2 separate regions of the Homo sapiens genome follow, and region 1 is linked to region 2. Evidence: fine-mapped expression QTL. A gene starts in region 2. The other region holds a variant in brackets. All regions are shown on one strand. Distances are from middle to middle.

What was found. PIP is the estimated chance that this variant, and not a neighbour inherited with it, causes the effect.
Region 1: its variant is fine-mapped to the expression of LEKR1 in hippocampus (GTEx, PIP above 0.99).

The regions. Positions count from the first base shown.
Region 1 is chr3:157,065,317-157,081,344 of GRCh38, reverse strand. No RefSeq gene overlaps it. Among named protein-coding and RNA genes, the nearest start is that of LINC02029, 8.5 kb to the left of the region's middle. The variant T/G (reference allele first, on the strand shown) is at 8,949.
Region 2 is chr3:156,822,494-156,835,302 of GRCh38, reverse strand. LEKR1 (leucine, glutamate and lysine rich 1) reads right to left here and starts at 8,950. Exons shown (of 13, transcript NM_001004316.3): 1 at 8,927-8,950; 2 at 5,926-6,017. The coding sequence starts at 5,973. RefSeq lists a silencer at 7,809-8,103 and an enhancer at 8,418-8,477.

The DNA of each region.
Region 1 (16,028 bases), 240 kb before region 2:
ATTGGTTAAAGTTTTTCCTAATATCCTCAAGGATTGAAGAAAAACAGCACACCTGTCTTCCTATACAAATTATCATCCTATACAAATTAATGGGCCCAGAGGCCCAGATCTAAAACAAACTAGGACTGAGTATAAAGGAATAAATGTTTTACCAGGCCAGATCACAGAAGTGAAAATCTTTGTGTAGAGATGAGAGCTGCTTCATACAACATCAGAGAGTTTGAAGGTTATAGTTCTCCTGCCTACCAAGAATATCTGATTAGAAGCTTTTTAAACTTTGCCTTAGTGAAGTTAAAGACTCTTTAATAAATTGCATCTTTAATTAGAATAAGAACAAACCAATCATATTACATGAACCAATAGAGAATGATAAAACAGTCCTAAAAGAAATGGTTTTCTAATGGAATCAGAATTCATATGCAAACCTTTTCATGCTGCAGACTTTTTTGAAAAGTCCCGATTTCATTCCAATAGTATTCACAGCTGAGAAATATCTTTTAAAGATATAGCATGATATCAAGTTACTTTAATAGTTTGCAAAATGCTCTCAAGAATTACCTAAAAATATGCAGTTTCTATGATACCATAGATGAGTTCATCTAAAATTGTTTGATCTTCAATTAAAAACATAAACACACTTGGATATATTTGGACACAGATGTTGCCAGAGTTTCCAGATTTCATTGTTCAAAGGTATTTCATAAATATGAAAAAATGTGTTCAGAAGGCGTCCATCTGATTGGGTATTCAGGCTTACAAAGAAAGTAATTACAGGGGCAGAGACTGGGAGTCAGCCCTCATTCATCTCAATTCTCTCTCACATATCAGCATAGCTTGACTTTGATTTTTTAGATGCAAGTAAAGGACATTGATGTAATTCAAATAAATTAGTTTTTTTCAAATATCCTGAGGAGTCTGGAATCAGACATGACAGACTTGATGGACAAAAGCCTGAAGGAGAACCAACTCTGAAGTCGTCATAATGGTTCTAAAAACAGTGTCTTTCCTTCTTATTGACCTAAATTTTCATCTTCTTTCTAGGGAACATTTGCTTGCCAGGTCCTTGGAAAAGGTCCACCTTTGGCTTCTCCTCTCCCTTCCTTCTCTTCTGCGTTTGCGTCTTCCATTGAGATTCCCACCGGGGAATGTCGCTGCCGCCATGGCATCCTCTGGTCAGCTGAAGTGACCTTCAACCTTCCTTGCCTTTCTCTGAGGGCAGGGGCCTTGCTTCTCCCATTAACAAAGCACTTTCGGGCAACTTTTAGGTTTCTTCACGGTTGATTAAACTGTGTTTATTTAGGACCCTTCTCCTCTTTCTGTTTCCGGCTGCTGACCTTTCTGCTGGTTCATTGTTGGAGGAGAACACTCACAGGGCAGTCTATCTGACTGCTTGTTAGCAGCTTTGGTAAAGATTTTGTTCTGGAAAACGTTCAGCCTGTTGAAATACTAGTGCATCTTCAAAGCATATGACGTTTTGCTTGGATAGTGTTCAGAGTTGCTGTTACTGGGTAAGGCCAGAAGCACATGAAAGAGAGAAACCTGAGGTAGCCTGTGAGCTGTAACTGCTAGCATCTCCCTTGAACCTGGTGCATGTTGATCTTCTTGCATGAAGCTCCATATGGCTTCACTTGGTATGTTGTGGTTCTTTTTTTTTTTTTTTTTTTTTTTTTTTGAGCTGGAGTCTTGCTCTGTCGCCCAGGCTGGAGTGCAGTGGCACAATCATGGTTCACTGCAGCCTTGAACTCCTGGGCTCCTGAGCAACTGGGACTATGGGCGCGTGCTGCCATACCTACAAAAAAAATAATTTTTATTTTTATTTGTTCGGAAAAAGGGTTTCCTTATGTTGTCCAGGCTGGTCTTGAACTCTTAGCCTCAAGCAATCTTCCAGCCTCGGCCTCCCAAAGTGCTACGATTACAGGCATGAGACACCACTCTTGGAGATTTTTAATAAGAGTAGATGGACATGGTTTTGTTGCTTGGAAATGGGAAGAAGAGAGAAAATGAGGCACAGAAAGTTTTGTTGAGTGGCCAAAAGATAAGCCAGGACAAACACCTTAAGCCAGAACTCCATTTTTGGAGATTCTTGTCTGTAGGACAGCGAACACCCCTGCTGCCACCCTGCCCTAGATTCTCAGGCAGGCTCTGCTCCCCAGTAGCCCCCACACTCCAAGGCCCAGCCAAATGCCAGTTCCACCACATGCAGGCATCAGTTCTTTCTCTAAGCACTGTGACATGTACTTGCTATACCTCTCAGAATGGAATTTTTGTGTTTTGCTTATTTGTGTATGAATCTTATCACACTGGCTTGATTGCAAGTGCTTGGAGTGTGAAATGTACTTCTGCATGCCCAGAAGCATGTGGTACATATTTTAGTGAAAGCAAATGGATAAATGGAGGTGCAGAGTGATGCCGTCCCTAGTTCTTCTCTTTAATGCCACCTACTCACTTGGATAACTTGCCCTCCGCATTCCTCACACTATGCTCAGCTCCCAGCTTCTGCAATTGGTTTGGCCTTACTCTGTAGTTTGGTTATTTGTCCATCTCACCTTTATATCTCTGCCTAGTCATTGTTACCCATCTTAGATGATAAACTCTTAGGGGACTGAGGTTCCACTTAACTCCCTTTGCCTACCACTTGACAAAAACACAGGGCATGACTAAACACTTAATGGACTTCAGAAGATGATACTTACAATCAGAGAAGTGAATCACTAAATCTGATCGTCCATCCTCTCAGAATGAAGGTTGAATGGTTCAGGACTTTGTGAAGTTCTTAGTCACCATTGCCCCCTTCCTCATGATGAATCTTTTCCTATGCATTTTGTTTAGCTGCAGGATAAACTAAGAATAATATTTTCTTATTCTTAGAAAATAAGATTAGAAGACTGCTTCTAAAGGCCAGGTTTCTCAACAGCAGCATGTTGACATCTTGGGTTGGATAATTCTGTCGTGGGGGCTGTCGTGAGCGTTGCTGGACATTTTGCAGCATTTCTGGTCTCTACCCATAGATGCCAGTAGCATGCCCCACCATTTTTAGACATTGCCAGAAGTCGCTAGGGTGTGCTGGGGGAGCAAAGCCCCTGGTTGAGAGCTACTGCTTTAAGGGATAAAGGTGGAAGAGGGAAGCCATGGAGGAAAGGAAATGATAGTCATAACTAGGTGTTCTTCTTCTCTTTGGAGGTTTTTGTTTTGTTTTTTTAAAAATGAAAGCAGCATGGTGTTCTGCTCTGACAGTTGGGAGAGGAGAGTCTTGCAAATGCATTTAAATTATACAGCATTTCACCACTTTGCCCTTTTTCTCCCCTTAGGGGCTATTTTTTTTCACCATTACCACTAGGTTGGACCTGCTTTCTGTGGCTTGATCCCATCTTGTTTTAGGAATAGCTTTCTGGAAGCTCTGACGGGCACATGATGACTTGCTGGGAGAGGCACCAGCAGGCTGCTTTGCTGTCCTAGGGCCCGGACACTGCCCTCATGAGGATACTGTGTTTAGGACTCTGCTTTTCCACTTTGCTGATCTGGGAACTAGATTTTTTTTTCTTTTCCCTGTGAATTAGTAAGCCACTGGGAGCAATAATTCACCAAAACTGGACTCACCAGACACTGGGTTGCACACCAGACTATTACAGTATTGCTTTAAAATGCGTATCCCCAGAGCCCTCACCTGGAGTTGGAACGTGGGCAAGCAGCATGAAATGTAGCCCAGAGTGCATGTAGGGCCCCAGGCCAGTGGGCCCCAGCCCTGGCCCAGATGTCTGGCCCTTTCTGTCTCAGCTGCCAAGGGGATGACCTTTGTGGCCAGGAGAGGGTGGGACAGAGAAAAAGCTGGGATTTAAGAGAAGAGTGAGAGCTTAAAGATGTGCACGATCTTTAGAAATAATTTGCGGTGTCTGCTTCAGTGAATGTTGGTGTCCCAAGGCAGAGTGCCAGTCGTTCCCAGTGGACACCTTTCCAGAGTGGCCTTCGGTTATCAGGATAACCAAAGAACTGCAGTAGCTGTGGCAGAGGTGGAGTCAGGACAGAGGGCGTTGGTTGATTTCAGGAGCTATTCTCGCCAGGCTGTGGGAAAACCTGATGAAAATGCTCTGCTTCTGTACGGAGCTCATCTCCCTAGAGATGGGCACACTCACTTCTGCCCTGAGGGGGAGCTGCTCTCTGGCTGAAAGGGGCTGTGCCTCCCCGGCACAGGCACTGGTTCTGCAGATCCCCCAGCCCTTCCTCCCTTGTAGACCACCTTTCTTTGTCATCACACTCTGTCATCACATGCCCTATTTATTTATTTATTATTTTGGACGGAGTCTCGCTCTGTCACCCAGGCTGGAGTACAGTGGTGCGATCTCGGCTCACTGCAACCTCTGCCTCCTGGATTCAAGAGATTCTCCTGCCTCAGCCTCCCGAGTAGCTGGGATTACAGGCACACACCACCATGCCTGGCTATTTTTTTCTTTTTTTCTTTTTTTTTTTTTTTGTATTTTCAGTAGAGATGGGGGTTCACTGTGTTGGCCAAGCTGGTCTCGAACTCCTAACCTCAAGTGATCTGCCCATCTCAGCCTCCCAAAGTGCTGGAATTACAGGCGTGAGCCACTACGCCTGACCCATGTGCTTTTTCTTTTCTTTTTTTTTAATTTCAAGGGTCTGGTCACCTGCATTTGCTAACTCGGTGAATGACCTCCTGCATTCTGGGTTTGTTTAGTAAAGCTCCCAGAACGTAGAGACCAGCAGGGCTTACTTCTGAACAGAGCTGCAGCCTCTTTGCTGCCCCTGAGCTAGAGCAATGGGTCACGAGTGTTCTCTAGGTTTGTCCCTTGCTTTACCCTGTGGGATATTCCTTCTCTGGAGATGTTTTCTCTTTGATTGTAGCTAAAGCTGACAGATGTTTCTGCTAAGTGGATGGTGAATGCCTTTGGAAAGTTTGTATTTCTCCCAATAGAGTGGCAGGAAAAAGAAAGGAACATTGTGGTCTCCGTGTTTTCAACCAAGGAAAGTGGAAAGCAGAAAGCCATCTCTTTTTCTACGCTGTCAGGGTGCCTGGTTCTGTCTTTTGAGCCCTGCCCATCTTCTGGGTCCTGGCCAGAGCACATCTCTGCTGGGCTGGCAGCAGATCCTCAGGATGTGGAAATGCATTGGCTGGACCTGTTTTTGTGTCAACGAACCAAGTGGGGCATTAAGCTAACCACACGGAGAGGCCCTTTTCTCCCCTTGAGTCATTCTCACATCCATTGCTGGGCCTTTGTCAGAGAGTCCTTTGTCACTTTTGAAAATGTTATTTCTTAGGAAATAAAAGAACAGTGTATGGCCATGGTTAGTTTTGCTGGTAAGTTCTATTACTTGACACACAGTTACTGTAATAGAAAAATATGAATCTGATCAGTGTGTTAGGTCTGTTACTACCACAACCATCATCTTTGTCCCCAAACACCACGATCCTGCACTTCAAAAGCATGTTCTTCAAAAGCCATTGTTGTTGGGGAAGCAGGACAAACTGTGCTTGTCTAATGCTGATTTCCTCTAAAAACGAAAGAGAGGAGAATGAAATGAAGCCGTGCAGTTCCAACAGAGCTCTCTGCAAGTGTTGTTTCCATACTGGTGTGTTTTGTCACTGATTTTGGTCAGGGATGTTCAGATTTTCTGTTTGCATTTAATTTGCATTGCTTTTTGTTCAGCCCTGTATAGGTCCACGTTCTTCGCACTCATTTAAGTTAAATGTGCCTCCTTAAAGGTGTCTCCGCATCTTCAGAGGACATGAAAAGATGCAGGTCAGGGATTTGACAATGCGGTTTTGAACCCCAAGGATCAGCATGGAGCAGCTTTCTGGATCAGTAATTCTACTCGTAAACTTTTGGGAAATGTTGTTTTTATATTAAGTGGTGGTGTAATAATGGAGTTGAGTGCTTAATTTGCATGAATTTTAAAGATAATGTTCAATGCATCGAAAATATTCAATGCTTATAACAGGTGCCATAAGTGATCCCCTCAGATTCCTGAAGTGGGTAGAATTATGAGTCGAATTGTGTCCTCCCAGAATATGTTGAAGTGCTAATCCTATCCCTCAGTACTTCAGAATGTGAACTTATTTGGGTATAGGGTGATTGCAGTTGAAATTAGTTAAGTTTAGAAGAGGTTACACTGGAGTAGTGTTGGCTCTAGTCCAATATGACTGGTGCCCTTATGAAAAGGGGAAATTTGGACACAGCCATGTGCACAGGGAGAACACTATGGGAAGATGGAGGCAGAGATCAGGGTGATGCTTCTGCCCAACAAGGAATGCAAAAGATTGCCAGAAAACCGCCAGGTAGGTAAGAGGCCTGGAACAGATCCTTCACTCACAGCCCCAAATTTTAGACTTTTGGCCCCCAGAACTGTGAGACAACAAATTTCTCTTGTTTTAAGGTACTCAGTTTGTGGTACTTTGTGACGACAGTTCTGGCAAACTAATACATGTGGCCATTCTCTTCTCTTGCTGAGGGTGCTTTATTGACAGAGCTTGAGGAACACTGAACTGGGTCATGGAAAGAGCTTAATTTTGGAGTCCAGAGAGCCAGCTTTGGATTCTGGCCATGCCACCTACAAGTTGTGTGTCCTTGGGCATGAATCCAAATGTCCTATTGTGAGCATAAGCAGGAGGGTGCATGTAGTAACACCAAGAATGGAACCTGGCAACCCGGTGGGTTCTCAATGGATGCTATTCTTACCTTGCCTTTCCCTTCTGAGCATTTGTCTAAGAGATGAAAAGCTCAGAGCCTGGAAAAGTAAAATGCCTTGTCCTCAGTTACACCGTGAGCCGCTGCAAGGCTGGATATCAAGTCCAGGCCACCTGATGCCACACCTGCTCTGTGGTTACCCTTGATGTAGTCTTTGGTGATCCTCATGTCCCCATTATAAAAATTCCCCACATATTGTGTCCTATAAAGAATTATAAAGGACAATCTCTAGGTCCCAGATGCAGTTTCTACCATTAAGTGAAAACCACCTGCTCCTGAAAGGTTCTTGCACTACCCCAAAAGCCTTTGTAACAAAATAAATGCCCCAATGTCATTCTCATTTTTTACATATTCTTGACACATAATTGTTAGCATGAGTTGATTATTGGCTCATGAAAACTTATATTTTATTAAAAGGCGTTTTGCAATGTTTCTTATAGGAAAAAGGTTTTGCATCTTTTAAGAAGGAACGAATCAGAGTCAGAGGGTTGATGGAGGTTGTGAAAACTGCAGAGGACTGTCCTGCAGGAACACAATCTGGTTGCATGGTAATGAGGCATAATAAACAAGGGATTCAAGCAAAGCCACTGGTGGTGACTAATTCCAGATGCTAGGTGGCATGCATGCATTACATCTTTTTAACAGAAAAAAGCCACGGAGGAGAAATCAATTTGCAGATTCAGGAATGTTGCTGAAGTTATGTTCCAGTGTCGATAAAGATCAAGGGCTGGAGTCCAGCCTGCATGGATCCTGCCTACCCTGAGGAAGTCAGACACACTCTGGAAAGAGCTACAGATCTCCTTCTCCAAAACATACCCCAATACACGTCTCTACAAAACGTTTCAAATAATTACCAGGGGTTCAGCCCCTCTCCCAGGCTCCCTTCGACTCACTCTTAGGTCCCTGAACTCCAGGTTAAAAACCATCCACATTTCCCTTATTGGCCTCCCTCAAAAAACAAAAACAAAACAAAACAAAACAAAAAGAAAAAAAATTAAGTCCTAGCTTAAAGGACATTTTATGACTTCTCTTTTATTTTTTGTTTTTGTTTTGTTTTGAGACAGAGTATCGCTCTGTCGCCTAGGCTGGAGTGCAGTGGTGCGATCTTGGTTCATTGCAAGCTCGGCCTGCCGGGTTCACGCCATTCTCCTGCCTCAGCCTCCCGAGTAGCTGGGACTACAGGCACCCACCACCATGCCCGGCTAATTTTTTTTTTTTTTGTATTTTTAGTAGAGACAGGGTTTCACCATGTTAGCAAGGATGGTCTCGATCTCCTGACCTCGTGATCCGCCTGCCTCGGCCTCCCAAAGTGCTGGGATTACAGACATGAGCCACCGTGCCCGGCCCATGACTTCTCTTTTATTTAATCACCAGAGGCATCTCAGAAAAAAAATCATGTGGCCTGGAGCAAAGAATAATCATCGATACAGTAGTATTAGTGGGAGAAACTAGAAACCACGGTTTACTGAATGAAAAGGTCTATCAGAGTCTGGACGCCTGGCTGGGTTTTAGGCTCTTTCAAACATGTGGTCATGTGAGCATGAGTGAACTTCTCTTAGCCTCAGTTTCTCTATGAATGCCTGCAGAAGTCACAGCACCCACCTCACAGCTGCCTTGTGAGCAATAAATAACATGTAGATCTCAAATCACCATGTGAACTGTCAATGAACAGAAAGCGGTATCATTCATACGAAAAATAAACTTAGTGACAAAAACACTTAAGCATTTATATTTTTTAGAACTTTGTTCTAAAATTTGAGAATTTTAATACATTGTAATAAAAAATATATTTCATGAAAAAACAAGAGAATGAAAGATTTGATCCTATTCTATCCGTGTTTGAATTTTTATGTCTAGAGGGAAAGCCTAACCTAGAAATTGCAAACCAGTCCACAAGTATGTTGTTTCATCTGCAGAGTGTTAAGCAAGCTTTGTTTTGTTTGTTTTTTAAATAAATTGCCAACATTTAAAACTGTAAGATTTTCCCATTAAACAAACCCTGAGCCAGGTGTGGTGCACACCTGTAGTCCCAGCCACTTGGGAGGCTGAGGTGGGAGGATCGTTTGAGCCCAGGAGTTCAAGGCTGCAGTGAGCCATGATTGCACCACTGCACTCCAGCCTGGGTAAGAGAGTGAGACCCTGTCTCAAAAACAAAAACAAAAAACCCCAAACCAAAACAAAAACCCAGGATTTTCAGTTTCTTTCAGAAAAATAAAAGCAGAATTCATAGCACAACTGGTGGGGTTT[T/G]CTACAGCCCACTGTGCCCACTCCTGGGCTGTTTGCTACCCTGGGCCAGCCACAGCCAAGGTACCTCCTGGTGTCACTTTCCCACCAGGAGGTCTAGAGTTTCAAGTAGCTCCTTCCTTCCTTCTTTCCTTCCTTCCTTCCTTCTTTCCTTCCTTCCTTCTTTCCTTCTTTTTCTTTCTCTCTCTCTCTTTCTTCCTTTCTTTCTCTCCTTCCTTCCTTCCTCCTCCTCCTTTTCTTTCTTTCTTTCTTTCTTTTTCTTCCTTCTTCCTTTCTTTCCCTTCCTCCCTCCCTTCTTCTCTCTTTTTTTCCTTTCTTTCTTTTCTTTTCTTTCTTTCTTTCTCTCTCTCCTCTCTCTCTCACTCCTCTCTCTCTCTGTCTCCTCTCTCTTCTCTCTCTCTCCTCTCTCTCTCACTCCTGTCTCTCTCACTCCTCTCTCTCTCCTCTCTCTCTCTCCTCTCTCTTCTCTCTCTCCTGTCCTGTCTCTTCTCTCTTCTTTCTCTTTCCTCTGTCATCTCTCTCTCTCTCTCTACTCTCTCTTCTCTCTTCTCTCTCTCTCTCCTCTCTCTTCTCTCTTCTCTTCTCTCTCTCTCTCTCTCTCTCTCACCCAGGCTGAAGTGCAGTGGTGTGATCTCAGCTCGCCGCAACCTCCACCTCCCAGGTTCAACTGATTCTTATGCTTCAGCTGCCCAGGTAGCTGGGATTACAGGTGTGCACCACCACGCCCGGCTAATTTTTGTATTTTTAGTAGAGATGAGGTTTTGCCATGTTGGCCAGGCTGGTCTCTAACTCTTGGCCTCAACTGATTTGCCTGCCTTGGCCTCCCAAAGTGCTGGAATTACAGGCATGAGCTACTGTTCCTGGCCTCAAGTAGCATCTTCCTAAAAAACATTAAACTTGTAAGGAAACAGCCAGTGCTTGAGACCAAACATGGGGTGTGTGGTTGCTTGCCCCTCAGCTTTGTTTTACCCTCGGGTAAGGCTCCTTGGCCCAGATGTGGGGGAACACTGCCTGGGTAGAGGGAGACTTTTTCTTGTGAAATGAGCACAGGATCCTTGCGAGGACTAAGTCAGATGACATATGTAAACACCTTGCAAGAGTCAACATTCAGGAAATGGTAGTTCTGAGCAGGGGCATCCCAGACCACTCAGGACATCACAAGATTCTGACAAGTAATCTGTACCTCCAACTCCAAGGAGCAATGGTCAGAGTTGGCACCACATCTGTTTGCCAGGATCAGCTTGAGGAAGAGGGTACCCCGTGAGACCACAGTTTCTGAGGAAAAGGACACAGGCCATGGGACTGGAACCCAAAGTGGAAACAGACCTTAAGTGCTAACATGGATGCCTTTTGCCTTTGGTTACTCACTCCTGTGTAACGACGAGTGTTAGAATGTCCAGGGAAATGTGCTGAGCAGAACTGTCTGTTTTAACAAGGCCACATGTAGCAGAGTCGTTTACCTGAATTTGCTCCAAAGAAGACATTACCAGTGATAGCCTGGTGCATTGGCCCCAAGGGCTCACTTCCAGAACAAATACACAACCAACTTCCTACAGAGAGCCCATGGCCAGGGGCCTGTAAACCTAAGGAGGCCTGGGCTTCTTTGGTGTGGGAGGGAAGCAGCTGCCAGGCACTGCTATGGGCCTGACTGGCATTATCGTCAAGGAAATCAGCAGTCCCCAGAAGCCATGCCTAGAAGTGATCTCACTGCTTTCTTCTCCCTGCCAAGGATTCTACGCAAGTCTGTTTTATAGGAAGTTGCCTTTCTTTTGAGCAGAAGAGGACCTCCCCTGTGTTGAGCAAAACGTGAGTAAATGATTACTGGCAGCTGTAAAAGGATCTCATAAAGCATTTCTGTGATCCCCCCAAAAGGACCTGATTTTTATACATTTGCCTTTTTAGTTCACTTTGCAAGTACAAGGCTGTTAAAGTCACTTAATGATGCCAGGGGTAAAGTTCACTTTAGGAAATGGGGTAGCCAAGGGTTTGGGATTTCCCCACACTGTTTCCTTCTCCATCTCATGAGCTGACAAAAGCAACTCTCTGAGTCCCATACCCAGGAACTTGTACTGAGAAAAATAATCCATATTTATTTGCTATTATAAACTAGGGTGGTCTTCAGAAAGAAAACCAGGGCTTTTTCCCGGGTGGGCCCTGCCCTGGAGTGGGGCAAATGATGTGGCAGTGAGCCCCATACTGGGGATGTTGAGAGGAAAAGGGTGCATTTTTGATGGGAAACAAGAGGTCATCTCAGTTCGAACTGTAACCAAGGCGGAGATTCTGAGCCAGGGTAGGAGAGTCCACAGGCTGCCCAGAGTCAGGGAAGTCTGGGTTGGAGCACATCTTGGTGGTCACTTACGGTCAAGATCCCCAGGGATATCCCCTGCCTGCCCACACCCAAGGGAAGCTTTTTCTCTGTTGAAATCCCGAATTTCCTACAGTGGCTCCAGTCTCCAGAGATTCCCTGGACAGATGCTCTCTCCAGATGAACTTTGTCCTCTGACTTACAACAATCACAACTGTTCCCCACATCTGCTTCCAGGAGATCTCACTGGCTGGGGTCACTCAATCAGTATAGAGATGAGAATCTGCCCTCCAATAAATCTTGAGCTTGGGTGGCTTCCTACTGCCCTTTAAGCCTGTATCCCTCTACCCCCAAGTCTACCTCCTTGATCTCTGGGCAATTGAGTCTGGACAATAGTTACTCTCTCACCTCCAAATCTCGAGTACTGCACCACTTAGCAAATGCATCAGGTTTAAAAATCCTGCCACTTAACGTAGGCTTATTTTCTGTCTAAAATGTGCAGATGTTTAATTGTCTCATCTGTGAAATGATGACGAAAATAGCTTATCTGGTTGGACCAGACAAAACTGAACCTGAGCATTTCTCAAGATCTCTTCCGTCTCTGGAATCCATGATTCTGAGATATTTTCAAATATATGCACTAAAAATGAGTTTTTCTAAAACCAAATTGTGATTCATGTGAATTACTAACGACTGAACCAAATACAGCAGCTTATTTAGTTCTGGCCTCAGGAGAAATCTTTTTTTTTGAAACAGGGTCTTGCTCTGTCACCCAGACTGGAGTGCAGTGGCACAATCATGGCTCACTGCACCCTCGACCTCCTGGGCTCAGGCAATGCTCCCACCTCAGGCGATTCTCCCACCTTAGCCTCCGGAGTAGCTGAGACAACAGGCGTGCGCCACCACACCAGGCTAATTGTTTTATTTTTTGTGGAGATGGGGTCTCACTATATTGCCAGTGGTCCCAAATCCCTGGTCTCAAACAGTCCTCTCACCTCAGCCTCCCAAAGTGTTGGGATTACAGGCATGAGCTACCACTCTCTGCAGGAGAAACTTGTAATTTACTTTTAGGTGAAAAGTCTCTTCTCCACTAAATACTGCATAAAAATGGCAAGATTCTCTACTGAATATTAATGTGACCGTAGCAAACAAAGGAAGAGACTATAAAAGTCTGAAATGTAAATATGTGGCCCACTATTCCAAAATAGTAAATGTAACAAAAGGAAGAAAGTCAGCCTCCTCCACCCTAGTGCACCAGGCGGCCTAGGGCAAGCCACAGAAGTCAGCCCCTTACTTCCTTTCCCACCATCCCACCAGGCAGCATCTCTGCCTTTGCTCACATTCTTCCCTGAGTCTTCAGAGCTCCCCGTCCTGCTTCACCTGTGTGAGGTTTCCTCATCCCTGCAGCCCCCACAGCTCACATCTATTTTTTTCTGAAAACTTTGCATAGCCTGCCTGCCCTCTGGGCCGGCTGGAGGTCATCTCTGCTTCTCAGGTTCCCAGCCCCTTGTATGCTGTGACAGCACTCGCCACCCGCTCCTGATATGGCATTGCATGGTTGGTACGCACTTGTCTGTCTCTGTCACTGGACTTAAGTTTCTGGAAGGCCGAGACGCTCTCTGTCATCATTCCCATGGCCCTTACACAGGTTAGACATCCAATACATTTTTATGAAATTTAAATGAATTGAAGAAGGATGACAATTTTCCTATCCAGATGTGTATCTCTACCACAGATTATTGGAACAGACTGTAGTGCGAAAGTGGCAGTGACTTAGTCAATGTAGCCAGTGATTCTGAACGTTGGCACCATTGACATTTGGGCTGGATAATTCTTGGTTGTGGGGGGCTGTCCTGTGCCCTGCTGGATGTTGAGCAGCATCCTTGGCCTCTCCCCAATGGATGCCAGTAGCACTCCTCCTCCTCCTCTTCCTCCCAAGTTATGATATCAAAAACACTGGCAGTATCCCCAGTCATTGACAATGTCTCCTGAACTACCCCTGGTTGAGAACCACTGATGCAGGTGATTCCCAAAGGAGGCTGAGAGAAAGTACCAGACATGATGCTCAGTGATGTCCTACACAGTGTCCTGACTCCTAGAGTCACCGTCATTTTAACACAACAGTGCACAGCAGCCACTTACACCTCTGGCCAAATATTTCTCCCTGACAGGCTATCACAGTGCACGCTAGTCAAACACTGGAATTTTCTTTTCTTTTTTTCTTTTTTGAGATGGAGTCTCACTCTGTCTCCCAGGCTGGAGTGCATGGCAAGATCTTGGCTCACTACAACCTCTGCCTCCTGGGTTCAAGCAATTCTCCTGCCTCAGCCTCTTGAGTAGCTAGGACTACAGGCATGTACCATCATGCCCAGTTAATTTTTGTGTTTTTAGTAGAGATGGGGTTTCATCATGTTGGCCAGGCTGGTCTCGAACTCCTGTCCTCAAGAGATCCACCCATCTCGGCCTCCCAAAGTGCTGGGACTACCGGAGTGAGCTACCACGCCCAGCCCAAATGCTGGAATTTTCTTAAAGGAGGTGGGGAAGGAAGGAACTGAATAAGGCCTCATCCCCTTTGAAATATAAATACCTTTGTTTAGGAGGTTGTGGTCTTGGAGCACAACAGCTACTAACAGGTGCCTGGGGTCATGCCGGGAAACCACAAGGGCAAAAAGTAACAACAACAGCTGATTTGAGAGACATATTTTTCCTTAGAAGGTATACAGGGCCATCACTGCTTGAAATATTCACACATACAAATTCAAGGAAGGGGCACACCTATTTGGCACGAGCCCTGTGGCTGTGGTTAGAGAAGATTTGAATATTTTGAGTGTGCAGGAAGGTGAACTTCATGTATCTTTACCTTAGCTTCCTTAGGCTGGGGCTATCTGTCAGCTACAGAGCAGCCCACAGGCAGGCGGAGCTGTGATGAAGCACATTTGTTCAAACACAGCAAATGGTGTTTGAAAAAACCACCACTCTTGCTTTTTTATGAAGCTATTACACTCTGTCATGTCAGGGAGCTGAGCCCAAGTGATGCCCAAGTGGCCATGATAGACTCACACTACAGGGCCTGGGAGAGCAGTGGGATTGTTTTTTTTCCTCGTTGAGGCAGTAAAAGATTGATTTTTGAGGCAGTGACTGAGGCATTATGCATTAATGACTACGCAGGGATTTTCATTCACATATCACGCACTGACAGTGGAAACTGAAGCTGCTGTGTAAGGTGCTGGCTCAATGCCCTTCCATGACTCCTTCCTCATCACGTCATTTGCCTGCCGAGATGCCGGGGCCTTCCGAATCATGGGGTCGATTGAGTAAAGGGCCCATGGTTTGGTGCAGGGCATCTCAAGCCAACACACGAGAATAACTGATGCAGCTGCTGAGATGAGAAGGTCTGCCGCAATGCTAATAACTCCACCTGGCTGCTCTCACATTTGACTTCTTGTATTCAGATTTGGAGAGACAGCTGGGAGCCTCTGATGAGAAAATAAAAAATTTACAACAATAAGCAAGCTGTCCTCTGACACCAGGAGAGGAACTCGCTTCAGCCCTGGCAAGAATTGCAGCTGGACTTTGTGAGGCACTGTTTCATCAGATGCCAAACATCATAGCAAGGGCAAGAATGACAAGAATTACAGTTTCTGCCCTGATGCACAGGTACTGATGGAAGAGATATTTCTGTGTTGATTTTGCACTTCTCAGGGCAAATCTGCAAAATAGATATCAAAGGAGATGTGGGCACTGGGCAAGGAGCCACACCAATCAACCATATAGAGCAGTCTGGAGGAGTCTCTCCCCATCTCCAACCCTCAGTTTTTCCCACCTGTTAAACACAGGCCACAATGTCTGTGCAGCCACCTCGCAGTGCAGTTAAAAGAACCGGTTTAAACAGTGTTTCTTAGCTTAGAGTCAATGGCTGAACAGGTTGCAGAGGGGCTGTAAAATCCTGAAATTTGCATGAAGCAATTTTTCCATATATGTCCATGTGCATCTTTTTGAGGAGGGGTTTGTCGCTTTCACTATATTCTTAAGAATATAGTCACTCTTAAGAGGTTAAGGGCCACTGTTCTAGGTAATGTGTGAAGGTGATGTATGTGTCCTGTAATTGAGCTATTATCAGCAAGCTTTTTGAGGAAAAAGGGACACAGAGGAGCACTTATTATGTGTTAGGGACTGTGCAGGACACACAGAGAATAGAAAAAAAAATGACCCTGGCCTTCTGGAGCATATGATAGACTTTAGATATGAGCCCAAAACAGATTAAAAGTTAAAAGGAAAAGCTAAGTGTAGGCAACACAGGTGAAAGGTCAGAAGAATGTAAGTGCCCCATAGAAGGAGAGAAATGGACTTCCAGCTACAGTGGGTTTAGGGATGGACACAGAGCGAGGGTGGGATTGAGTACAGGGAAAGGCAGGCAAGAGCATCTGTGGAAGAGGGATGGCCGGTGCAGCAGAGCTTGCATGCTGAGTTGACACGCTCCATGCCAGAGACCCTTAGATTGGGACTAAGTGTCACCGAAGAGAAGGCTGCGTTCAACAGATAGTTCTCAGGGTGACAGTTCATCCCAGGTGCCCTCAGACCCACATGACCTGCTCTTGGTCCTTCAGCCTCCGCTCTGCAGATGGGGCTGAGGGGCCCACCCAGAGAAGCCCTGTGGGGGAGAACAGAGCCTGCCCAGGACAGATATTCTCCTCCTTAGGAGCAAGTCCTCTTGACCCCCATGTTCCAAGCAGGAAGCTTTTCACATGTAGACTTTCTTCCTGCTGTGATGCACAAAA
Region 2 (12,809 bases):
CCATTGGTAAGGGTGCCTGCCTGTGTATATTAGAAACTATTATCATACAATGTTTTGGCTTAATGTCTCAGCTCTGTGCTTTTAAAATATAAGTTCTCTATCCTGTTTCACCTAGGAGCTGTCCCTTTAGAAATGCAAATTTAGAGTTGCCTAGCTGACAATTGTTTAGGGCAGGGAATAGGTAATCAAGAAACTGATAGTCTAAAATAGGAAATAGAAACTTAAAAACTGGCAAACAAAAAAATCTTACAACTACCAGATCCATTTCCTTCCATGTAATTATATGTGTTGTGTGTGGGATGTTTACATAAAGAACTCTAATTAACTGGTTTAGGGAAGAATGAGCCCTAAAATAAAATATTTTGTCAGAAAAATAGAAAATTTAATGCCTTTTAGTGTAGATGACTTTAGAAATCTTTGTTAAGTATAGTTTTAAAGATTATTGGTAAAATAAAAACATCTTCAAAATTTAGACATTTGGTCTACAGTAGGCAGACTGAATTCTGTCTTTGCTATACGTTTTAAGGTTATAAACTACTTCTATGATATTTTTGAAAATTGACTTGTCTATTCTTCAGTCATTAGATTTTAGGTAAGATCTGGGGACATATGGAGTTAGCCCTGTCCTCTGACTAGGCTAGGAAGAGTCAGACACTGTCTAAAGCTCTGTTCTTGTCCTAGGCTCTGCAATCTGATACATGGTTAAAATTACTTACTTACCAGGTTCCTAACCAGAAATAAAAGTGACTAAGAGTTAACATATTAACATTGAGACTACTAGAGAAAGTTTATATACAAGTTATATAAAGGAAGTAGAATGTGTTTTTGTCTTGGAAATATGGCTTTTGTTCAAAGGAAAGTAATCACGTTGAGTTTGGAGATTTTTGAGGATTGTCCCAAAAAGATATGACAATACTGAAGGTTTAAGCAAGTTGTAAAAGATTTATAATACATTGATCTTGTAAAGGAAGCTCTGTGGGTGTGAGCAATGTAGCCAAAAGTTGAACGGGATTATTTAGTTTTTCTATAAATTAAAACATTAAAATAAAAAGCACACTGTTACAAGGCCAGAATCTGGACCCATGTGTCAGAATAATGGTTTTCTTAGAACATTGATCTGCTCTTTAATAAATTATAAAAAGTTATGGGGGTCTGCCCTGTAATAAATTATAAAAAGTTATGGGGGGATGTTTAGGAAAATCTTACCTTATGGTCAAACTGATTAAGACTGTATAGATTTGTTTATAAGGTTTTATTAAAAAATTGGGCCTAACATTAATAGTACATTAATAAAAAGGTAAAATTTGGTTTTCCTCTTTTGAACAAAGTTTTTTTGTAATACTGAGCCACAATGAAATGTTTTTGCCTTTTAAGTAAACTGCAAAAAAAAAAAAAGGAAAAAAGGGGAAAGAGAGATTCAGGTAGCCACATGCTACCTTTATTGGGTATGCTGTTTAGGTTTTTGCCTTTTGAAATTTTTGAGTTATCACTTCTGCTAAATGAATAACCAATGATACTATTTTATAACAGTAAGTATTCTAAACCTTTGATATTTGACAAACCTTCCAAAATCAAAATTTCAAGTTCTAAATTCAGTCCTTTTGATTTCATTAATTTTTTCAATATTAGGTCCCCTGAAGTCCAAAAGAGACATCTGGCTTATTTGGCATGTTGACATCATAGAGTGAGCACTGTCAAGTATGAATTGGTATTTGGCTTTCTTTGGGCTGTATTTATATGAAAGTGTTATTGGTATGTGTTCCAGAATTGTGCAAGATTCCTATAATTTCAATATGACTTAGTGTATGTTATCAGTAATAATAATTGTTATATTAAATTGTATGCCACAAAAATAACCAAATTTCCTTGTTAATTGAGTCTTAAACCATAGCTGTTTAAGCCTCTTGTCATCCACAGTTATTTTTACTTTGATCCTTTTCAAAAGGTGATTTTATAATCAGCTATGGAACTCTAACAGGTGCTCTTGAATGCAGATTTCTGATATCTTTAAAGATTGTGCCATTAATATAGAGGGAGAAACTTCTAGGACTCTCAGGAAGAGCTGAAGTGTTCATGAATATCAAACAGAACAGGAATTAACTGTATGGACTGAACTAAGAGAATAATGAAATAATCTTTCTATGACTATTTGTTTGAAATGTTTCTGATCCTTTTTGTTTTTCAGGGTCAAAACACATAACAACTTTCCTTTTGAGCTGTTTATAGCTTTTAACAATTGAATGAAGCATATTTCTATCTGCAAACTTTGGAGCATATTTCTTTCTCTCTACGTGATTTCTCCAGAATTTTGAAACTAATTATGAGTCTTCTTAGCATATGGCAATATAGTTTTTTGCATAAGTTCAATAAGAATGTTTTTTGTTTTGCTTTGTTTTTTGCAACAGGACACAACTGGAGACACTGATTATTTTACCAAGGCTTTGACTGGAAATGGCATGGTTTCAGGCTGCTTTGAGTAACTGAGGTTGACTTACAGAGCTGATAACAGCCCCTTGGAAATACTGGTCTCATACCTTGTCCTTTACAGGGCTCCTAACCCGTAGTAAATAAAGAATGTCACTTTCTGACAGACCCAGGAATCCCAAGTTATTGTGGGACCTCAAGAAGAGAGAAATTCACCCAATTCATACAGGTATGTGCAGGCACAGATGAATCCTTGGCTGGGCTAGAGACTTTTAAAAGGTCTAATCTGAGATTCCTTATGAAATAAATTCCAGCAAAGCCAATTATTTTTAGAAAAAGAACCTATTTGGCAAATAACTATTCTTGCTGCATTTTATGCAAATAACCAGGCCAAATATAATGGGACTGGAACTTATTTTGCAAATAAATTGGTCCTACTATGATTTGTGTTTGGTAGAAATGGGGAACTGGAGAGAGAAAAATTGTTTCAGAAAAAAACTATAGTACAACTGTTATTAGATTCCAGCCTTATCCACTATGTTTGAGTCTCTGCTAATGACCCCATATCTGATTGATTCTTGGGGTCATTCACCTGTATCCCTTAAGGCTTCAGGTCAGTTCTACAGGGATTCCTGAAGTGAGGACTTTCTCTCCTTATGTTGGGGCTCATTATTTGTCTTATAGTCCACCTGTTCACTTAAGTGCTGTGTGAAAGCTGTGGATAAGAGCACCAATGTTTTCTTATGCAGACCTTGGGATCTCAACCTGGCACACATGAATACATACCAACAATTACAAGACAGTTTCACTCCTCTTACCCTGAGGGCAACTCCCACTCCAAATCTGCCCCTGTGAGCAGGAAGAAGTTACAGTGGCTGTAGGCCTTTTTCCATTTCCATAACACACAGATTAAAAATAAGGTATGATGAAACCCAAAGGAGGGGGATTAAAACTGTCTTTGCAAAAATTGTAACAGTGAGAAAATTCTGACCTAACCAAATTCAGTCTTGCCTTTAACCTCCAAACTGCCCTTGGTCATTTGATATGGTTTGGCTGTGCCCCCACCCAAATCTCATCTTGAATTGTAGCTCTCACAATTCCCACATCGTGAGGGGGACCTGGTGGGAGATAATTGAATCATGAGGGTGAACCTTTATCATGCTCTTCTCATGATAGTGAATAAGTCTCACAAGATCTGATGGTTTTATAAAGAGGAGCGCCCCTGCACAAGTTCTGTGTTGCCTGCCATCATGTAAGACATCCCTTGTTCTTCAGCCATGATTGTGAGGCCTCCCCAGCCATGTGGAACTGTGAGCCAATTAAACCTCTTTCCTTTATAAATTACCCAGTCTCAGGTATGTCTTTATTAACAGCATGAGAACAAACTAATACACAATTTCTGGGTATGGGCCAATCTAACTTTGGGAGAACTTTATAGTTTAAATAATATCCCTTAAACTAAGCCATCTTTGTAAAACTAATAAAAGCCAAAAGGTTAAGAGAATTAGAGGGGTCTGCATTCTGCTAATATGTAGGTGTAAATGACTAGGAGCCATTATTCCAATGGATTTGCAACTTCCCTAATTATTCCTGTAATTAACATCACTATTGTAGAACCTACAATTGGCCTTTTGAGATGTTTTTTCAGGCTTTTGTATTTCTAATGACTGATGCCCCACTTGGACTCTCCGTCTTCACACATGGACCATTTTCTACACCCCTATGACTGCATCCCCAATCAATCAGCAGCTCCCATACCCTAGCCCCACCGCCTGCCAAACTATCCTTGAAAATCCCTACCCTGCAAATTTTCGGAGATTGATTTGAGTAATAACTCCATCTGCCACATGCCACAGTGGCCTCATATCAATTAAACTTTCTTTACTGCAAAAAAACAAAACAAACAAATACAAAAACAATAAAAAAGAAACCAAAAACCCCCTTTCTTCTTAATGATTTTCTTAATGACATCTGGGAACTTGTCTGCTGCATCTTGGTCAGCAAAAGATGTTTCCCCTGTTATCTTGACTTTTTCTTTTTTATGCCAAACCTCTTTCAAAAATTACCAAACCATCCTTTGCTGGCATTAAATTATCCAGCTTTAGATCTTTCACCTTTTAAGTTGCCATATAATGATTTTTTTTTCTCTCCGAGACTTTTCACCACTCTCTGCTCACTCTGTGGAATGACTTTGTTTTTTCTTGAATCATATTAGAGTCTACAGGTATGCCTTTCTTATAACAATTCTGCACCCACATAAAAACTATGCTTTCATTATAAGAGATTTTGCAAAAAGTACATGGTTTTTGCACCTGTTGGCATAGCTGTAGCTACAACATCATAAATTTCCTTTATATATACATATCTAATGGTCCTTACACTGGATTCATTTATCTTGAAATAGTGGGCAACCACAGCTGCACACCACATTCTACAGTACACATCAAGCAATTCAACTTTTTCTTTGTAATGTCATGACTTTTCTCTGCTTCTTGAAAGTACTTCCAGCATCAGGTAGTGGCATGCTAAATGTGTCCTTTGTTGTTATCCAAAGCTTATGAAATTGCACTAAACATGATGAAAAATACACAAGAACTTCAAGATCACTTTTTCCTGAAGGGAAGAACTGCTCACATGGCCATGATTATCACACAGTGTTTTAAGGAGATAATCACAATGCCTGAGCTCACTGCAAAAGCAACAGGAGGTAGCTACAAAATTATTACATTTGTATAGTATATATTACAGTTAATTTTACGTAGTTACAATTTAATACTTCTTCGTTATGTTTTTTTACATCTCTTGACTGCAAATAGCACCACGTAGTTTCTTAAGTGTCTGTGTGCATAAGTTTTGATAAATTTTACCTTTTTATAATAGATTTGTGCATATTTTATGGTAGTAAATGACAAAATAGACTAGTGTCTACATACATTTTATGCATTCATGACATGCCTTTTTCTTAATTTTTTCAATATTTCTAGGCTACTTGGTTCGCCTGTGAGTTTTTTCAAACCATTCCAAATCTTCAAAACATTTTCCAATATATTTATTTTAAAAACCCACATATAAGTGGACCTACACAATTTAGTTCCATGTTGTTCAAGGGTCATCTGCATAAAAGGGGCTTAAAACAGTGCTTGGCACACAGTAAGTACTGAGAATTAATGTTGGTCAAACCATAATAGAGGCTTAGAAATCCAGCCCCATTAAAACACACATGGACGTTTCTGATGCCTGCTTTTCACTAGGGCTCCACAACCACCTGGTCAAATACTGTACTGGAATTAGATATATGTCTTCTTCCATAGCAGCAAAATTCTTCATACTGAATTGAATTCTACAATTCTGCTCATTATGATAATAATTATTCCCTCTCCCACTCCACCAATTCATTCAGATCCTATGACCAAAATTAATGAATTCACTCCTCTAGGTTTTAGAATTATGTAACTGCTACATGTTCCCACTGTTAGGCTGTAGCAACACAATATATCATACCTTTTGGATTTCTTCAGGCAACGCATGCATGGGAATGTGATGATCCATAACTTCCCAAAATATGGTGAGAGAGCTTTGAAGCCAAAGGAAATCTAAGAACATTGATGGCAACAGTCAGAACAGAAATAATGTAGAGAACATTCAAATTAAGATGCTTTATAAACTCCTAGAAGTATTTGGGGATGAATGGTGATAACTGTTTCAACAGATGCTTATTTCATCAGCTCAATGTTAGAAGGTACAGTTAGGGTTTTCTCCGTTAGTTATTGGGCCAATAGAACAGGAGAGAACTATAGAGACTGCTAAGTTAGAAAGAATATTTTCTCTTTTGTTAGAACTTTATAGTCTAATAATTTCTGTTGTGATTTACTACTAATTGTTTTTCAAATACATAATGACTAAAATTTTAAATACACATTTCAGTGTATTTTAAAAATCAAATATTTTTCTGAAATGCTGCTAGAAAAAGTATGAAAATATAGTATTTTAGCAGATGAAAAAAGCAATTGTGGCATGAATGCTGGATTAAATGATGAAATACAGAAAAAGAGCATTTAGAGATACCATATTAAATATGATATGCAAACACTGAACAGAAGAGTGATCAAAAAATAAGAAGCCAAGTGCCAATTTTATCTAAGATGGACATTTATATAATTTTATGCAGATATTTTACTTTTAACAGATTTTCTTTTTCTAATAAAAGCCATTCAATATAAAGGTCAGTCACTACTTTCATAAAACCAGAGGATAAATGGAGGAGCACTTTGGGTTTTTTGTTTTTTTTTTTAAATCCTTCCCTCACGAGTAAGGGCTGTTTATACATATCTAAGAAGTCAGGAGAAGGGCGAGGGCAGTGGCAGCAGAGTCAGATGATACAGGCACAATTCCATAGCAGGGAAGAAGGCATAGACAAGAGCAGTCTAAGAGTTCAAGAAAGGAAAAGATCTTATGTTTCAGATGAGAGGTGGGAGTTAGTGAAGGCTTCCTGAGGTTGCTTGTATTCAATCAGGGCAGGATTTTGACAAGAGACTGGAGAAGCAAAGTACTCTATCAGAGAGAGCAACCCCGGCCATACAGCAAGGTAGCAGGGAAACCGTAGTTGTCAAAAAGTCCTATAGTGGCATTATCTTTGTAAATGGTGCAACCACTAGTGGAAGAGAAGATTCCTTGTTCCCTGTGTTAGCACAAAGACTCATTTCAGTGAGTTGCTGTTTAAAACCAAAAACTAATGAGCTTTATGTCTTCCCACATAAAACATAATATGACATGTGTGGTAAAGTTAACTGAGGTCTGCAATGGAGGTACCATTAACCATGTCAACATAAGCCCAAACATAATCTGATGTTTGGCAGATTGTCATAATCATGTGGCAAGAGCCCAGAAGGCTCATTATTCTCATTTCTGTCATTTAATGGTGGATTTGCCATCAGTAAAATGAAATAGTAACTTCAACTCTATTGGGAGAATTTTCCAAAAAATTACCATCTAAACATCCTTTTAAAATTTCACCCATAAAGTTATCTGAGAGCACGGATCTAAATGACAGTATAAACAAAGCACCAGTAGAACAGTTTTTGTGTAGTGCCTTCATTGTCTGTGAATCTATTCCAACTTTATGGCCTTAGCATAAGAAGGGGAGGAATTGGCAGGTTCTGATTATCGGGGGGAAACTAAAAATTAAAAGTCCTGCCAACCCAGAAAATGCTCCACAATGCAGAAAGACAACAATTTTATTAGGCATTCAACTAGACTTTGATGCACATCACGGCTAATCTGCTAATGAGGTTACAAAGAGAGAAGGAAATCCCTCTTTTATACAGCCAAGGAGACACAATCCATTACACATTCTCAAGGAAACTGGTAACGTGTCCTCATGTAAGAGGGCTTAACATAGTGTTCTATACATTCTTTTATATTTCCTCTTTAATTCATCTGGTAATTGGGGTAACCACCTGTGTTAGCTAACGGCTTTCCTCCTAAGTAATGCACAGCTCCATAACGAAACAGGTGTTTACAATTAGGAATAACGCACCTAGGTTAAACTCCCAAAGTGACAAGGAGACTGGGGCCCTATCTTCCTTGATGTTTACATTTTAAAGAAATGGCTTCCAGGTCCTCAAGAAAAGCATTCCTAGGTCTTTAAAAACATTTGCATACATATTAAATAGAGGAAGCATTCACAAATACTAAGTTTCTCAAGAAAAAAGAAGGGTCTTTCCCTTTTGGCAACAGGGAAAATCTGTAATTTTTTAAATTTAGTCTTACATAGTTTTGCGTGTGTTATCAAACAAGTCCCTTTAATCCTTTCTCATTGCACGTATGTGGACCGCACTTTGGCAAGAGGTGCAGTGATAAGTGGCTGCAGCTACGTGGGTGTTTGTGAACCTCCTCTCTAACAAGATCACCGAAAAGACATTTTTTAAAATGCAGACACGTCCTTGTTCGTTTCCAATTCCGTTTCTCACACTAGTGTCACGTCAGGCCATTAACTCACGTTCAGCTTTCAAGCCCTTACGTAAAGAACCATTCCCATGGCGTGAATCACCCACAACGAGCAGGTCAGGGGCAGGTGAAGGCGGGAGTTCACATCCTAAGACTTTCCTGAAGCGGCAGGCTCTTCCACACAGAAACCAACCGCAAGGCCAGACAAAACTGCTGGAATGGCTTTCAAATCTGTCCCTTTCTAACCCCGTTCCCCCTGGACCTGCAGTGGCCGGAAGAGGAGGAGGAGGAGGGTGCGGGGGTGAGGAAGCAGAGCCGCGCGTTCCCCGGGGCTGGGAGGAAGGCGGACCGCGCCTGGGCCCCGCGGGCTGGCAGACACCAGGAAGGGGCCGCAGAGGAGCGTGGTGGCGGAGTCCAGACCCGGGGCCTCGTGCTCTCGCTGGGGCGCCGCGGCTCAGCTTTCTGGCTCTCTCCCCGGGTGCGAGCACGCCTCCACTCCGGAACTGCATTTGGAGGACCGGGTCATCCCAGGCTGAGGAAAGCCATCGTCCCTCACCTCGACTTCGACTAGGACGGGTGTGAAACGGCTTTCCCGGTCTCCCGGGCGACCGCGCCGCCAGTCGGCTGGACGTCAGGGCGCGGCGACGTCACGGCCCACGTCTGTCGTCAACGCTCCCCTGCACCGCCCAGGGTCTCACGCGCCGGGCGGAAGTGGGAAAACTGGTGGTGGGGCTCGGAAGGCTGGGCTAGTCTTACGCGGAATGCTGTGAGAGGGAGGGAAGGGGATCGAGGGATGAGGTGGGCGAGAGTGGGTCGGGTGCTTGGTAGCGACTGCTGAGATGGAGGGAGCTGTCCCAGCCTCGTGGGGGGTTGGAGAGAGGCACTGCCGGGAGTCGGGAGTCGGGAGCCTATAGCCCTACCTATCACCCCTTGCTCTGGGGCCTATGTGGTAGACACAGCAGTGAGCAGTTACTGTTCTTGAGCAGAGGAAAAAGAGATGCCTGTAGAGGTCATGGGTGTAAAGGGAAGTTCTGGTTTCAGTCATTACAGCCAGGACAAATTAATTGGGAAGGCGTTGGTGACATTTCCATTCTAGTCCAAAGTAGTGAAGATTAAGGGCTTAGTTCAAAAAGTATTTTGAGACCTCCTAGTCTACACTTTATTTATCGCAGGCTACCCACCCTTACACGTGACTAACTTCCCTTTGTTCATACATTCATTCATAAAACAAGTATTTATAGACCTACTACGCGACAAGCAGAGCAGCATACCGAGATAGGGTGATACTCTGTGACTGGTCAAGGCAGGAGCAGCCATTGGTGTAATTAGCAGGTGACTCATTCGTAGTCCAGATCTTGCCTTTCTGAGGATTATATAAGGTCGAAGTACAGTTCTTCCAAGAACCAAAGAAAACATCGATGGCTCTGTAGCAGGCAAAGAGACTGGTTTGCTATTGAATAAAATAAGATTAAGTAAATACAAAGAAAATTAATTGAACCTATAGATTTAGAGAAGTGATTAAATGACGCAGAGCAGTATCGGTACACCAAACTGCTTATTGATAACTACTAATTAATGACACCAGGAAGTACTGAACACTAGTGCCTTGTTCCTTGGCACTAAAAAGTCTAGTAGATGTGGCTGGGCGCGGTGGCTCGGGCCTGTAATTCCAGCACTTTGGGAGGCCAAGGCGGGCAGATCACAAGGTCAGGAGATCGAGATCATCCTGGCTAACACGGTGAAACCCCGTCTCTACTAAAAATACAAAAAAGTAGCCGGGCGTGGTGGCGGGCGCCTGTAGTCCCAGCTACTTGGGCTACTCGGGAGGCTGAGGCAGGAGAATGGCGTGAACCTGGGAGGCAGAGCTTACCCTGAGCCGAGATAATGCCACTGCACTCCAGCCTGGGCGACAGACCAAGACTCAGTCTCAAAAAAAAAAAAAAAAAAAAAAGTCTAGTAGATGTATCTTGTACATTTAACCTGACTGATATTTTTGCCCCAATGCCTACCCTTGATTTTCTGTTTCCACTCCCTCAAAGAAGAAAGGATTAAGAGGCCTAGAGGACAGTCAACCAAGTGGTCAACTATAACATGCTTATGAGAAGCCCAAATAACTTTCAGAGCTATTCATCCTCGTCATATTTATCTGAGAGATAGTGAGGGTAGGACTGCTCTCATTTTGTGATAATGGAAGTTTAGATACAGGGCACCAAAACTGGTACCTATCTGGGACAGGAATTTGCACACCTAATGCAAGATCACTCTGTTCTGAGGCTAGTTTTCTTTATTGAGTACTTTGTTTATAGGATAAGGAAAGGCAACACTTTAAGGATGGGAGAAAATCCAGCTCAAAGGCTGCAGTTCACTCCTTGGTTTAATTTCATCTGTGTTTATTTGTCTGCATATTGCCTTTGAGACCAATTTCCTTTCCACTGTAAATTTCCCTTAGACCTGCACTGTCCAGTAAGGTGGCCTCATGTAACTAATTTCACTAAAATGAAGTATGTTTAAAAATTCCATTGCTATATTGCATTAGCCATATTTTAAGTACTCAGTAGTCATGTAGGTAATGTATGATACACCATAGATACTGAACATTTTCATTATCATAGAAAGTTGGGCTGGGCGTGGTGGTTCATGCCTATAATCCCAGAGCTTTGGCAGGCTGAGGCAGGAGGATCTCTTGAAGCCAGGAGTTTGAGACTGGCCTGGGCAATATAGTGAGACTCTGTCACTATAAAAAAAAAAAAAATTAGCATGGTGTGGTGACACACACCTGTAGTCTTTACTCAGAAAGGCCTAGGTGAGAGGATCACTTGAGCCCAGGAATTTGAGGCTGCAGTCTATGATCTGGCCACTGCACTCCAGTCTAGGTGACAGAGCCCGACCCTGTCTCTTAAAAAAAGAAAACAAAGAAAAAGAAAGTTGGAAAGCAGTAGACCCCAGTAAGAATTTCAAAGGATAAGAGTTAAGTTGTGATGAATGACATTTTTTAAAGCGTAGCAGCAAAAAGTGTTATTCCTGAAAGAAGATAGTGCAAAGGAAGTGTTGTGACAAGATGTTACAAAATAGGTTTAAGAAAAAAAAAAAAGCCACGAATCCTGTGCCCTATGTTGGTGTTTTGTCTTGGTCTCTCCCTTTTCAGGTTTCTCACTTGCCCTCCCTCTGTCTTCCCACCCCATTACTGTCCATACTAGAATTGAAGTACAATTTAAAATAATCCCATCATTGGGCATATTAAATAAAGTTTTGGGTTACCCCATTAGTTTTTAATTGAGCTAATTTTCACTTTTTACTTCGACTTTTAAAAATTATCCAGTAATAGCCAAATTAAGCTGCTGTTAACTTCTTTTTATGACCCTTTATTCCCCGCTCCCAACCCCGTATTGTCAGTGATCCCTGGGGAAGGAAATGCTCTCAGTTTTTGGAATAGAGACGCTCTAAAGCGACTAACCTAGGGCTTTCCACATGGTCTGCAGAACTTTGTGTTGGTTTATGAGGACACAGTGTCTGTGCTTTTGTTACTGTTGTGAATTTACATAAAATATGTATCCAGCAGGGAAATGTCGTTCTTCACTTCAAAAAGTAGTTTTATGCTCCCTCCTTTGTTTCCTCCTCCCCCACCATGAAAAGCATGTAGAAGAGGTATGTTGCCTGCAATTCTGATAAAAATGTAGGAACTCTATCCAAGCGAGAGGCGACAGCGTGCTGGCAGTCCTCAGAGCCCTTGCTCGCTCTTGGCGCCTCCTCTGCCTGGGCTCCCACTTTAGTGGCACTTGAGGAACCCTTCAGCCCACTGCTGCACTGTGGGAGCCCCTTTCTGGGCTGGCCAAGGCCAGAGCTGGCTCCCTCAGCTTGCAGGGAGGTGTGGAGGGAGAGGGGCGAGCGGGAACTGGGGCTGCGCGCCGTGCTTGCGGGCCAGCTGGAGTTCCGGGTGGGCGTGGGCTTGGCAGGCCCCGCACTCGGAGCAGCCAGCCGGCCCTGCCAGCCACGGGCAATGAGGGGCTTAGCACCCAGGCCAGTGGCTGTGGAGGTTGTACTGGGTCCCCCCGCAGTGCCAGCCCACTGGCGCTGCACTCGATTTCTCGCTGGGCCTTAGCTGCCTTCCCGTGGAGCAGCGCTCGGGACCTGCAAGCCCGCCATGCCTGAGCCTCCCACCCCCTCCGTGGGCTCCTGTGCCGCCGGAGGCTCCCCAACAAGTGTCGCTCCCTGCTCCATGGCACCCAGTCCCATCGACCACCCAAGGGCTGAGGAGTGTGGGCTCACAGCGTGGGATTGGCAGGCAGCTCCTGTGCAGCCCCAGTGCGAGACCCACTGGGTGAAACCAGCTGGGCTCCTGAGTCTAGTGGGAACTTGGAGAACCTTTATGTCTAGCTCAGGGATTGTAAATACACCAATTGGCACTCTGTATCTAGCTCAAGGTTTGTAAATACACCAAT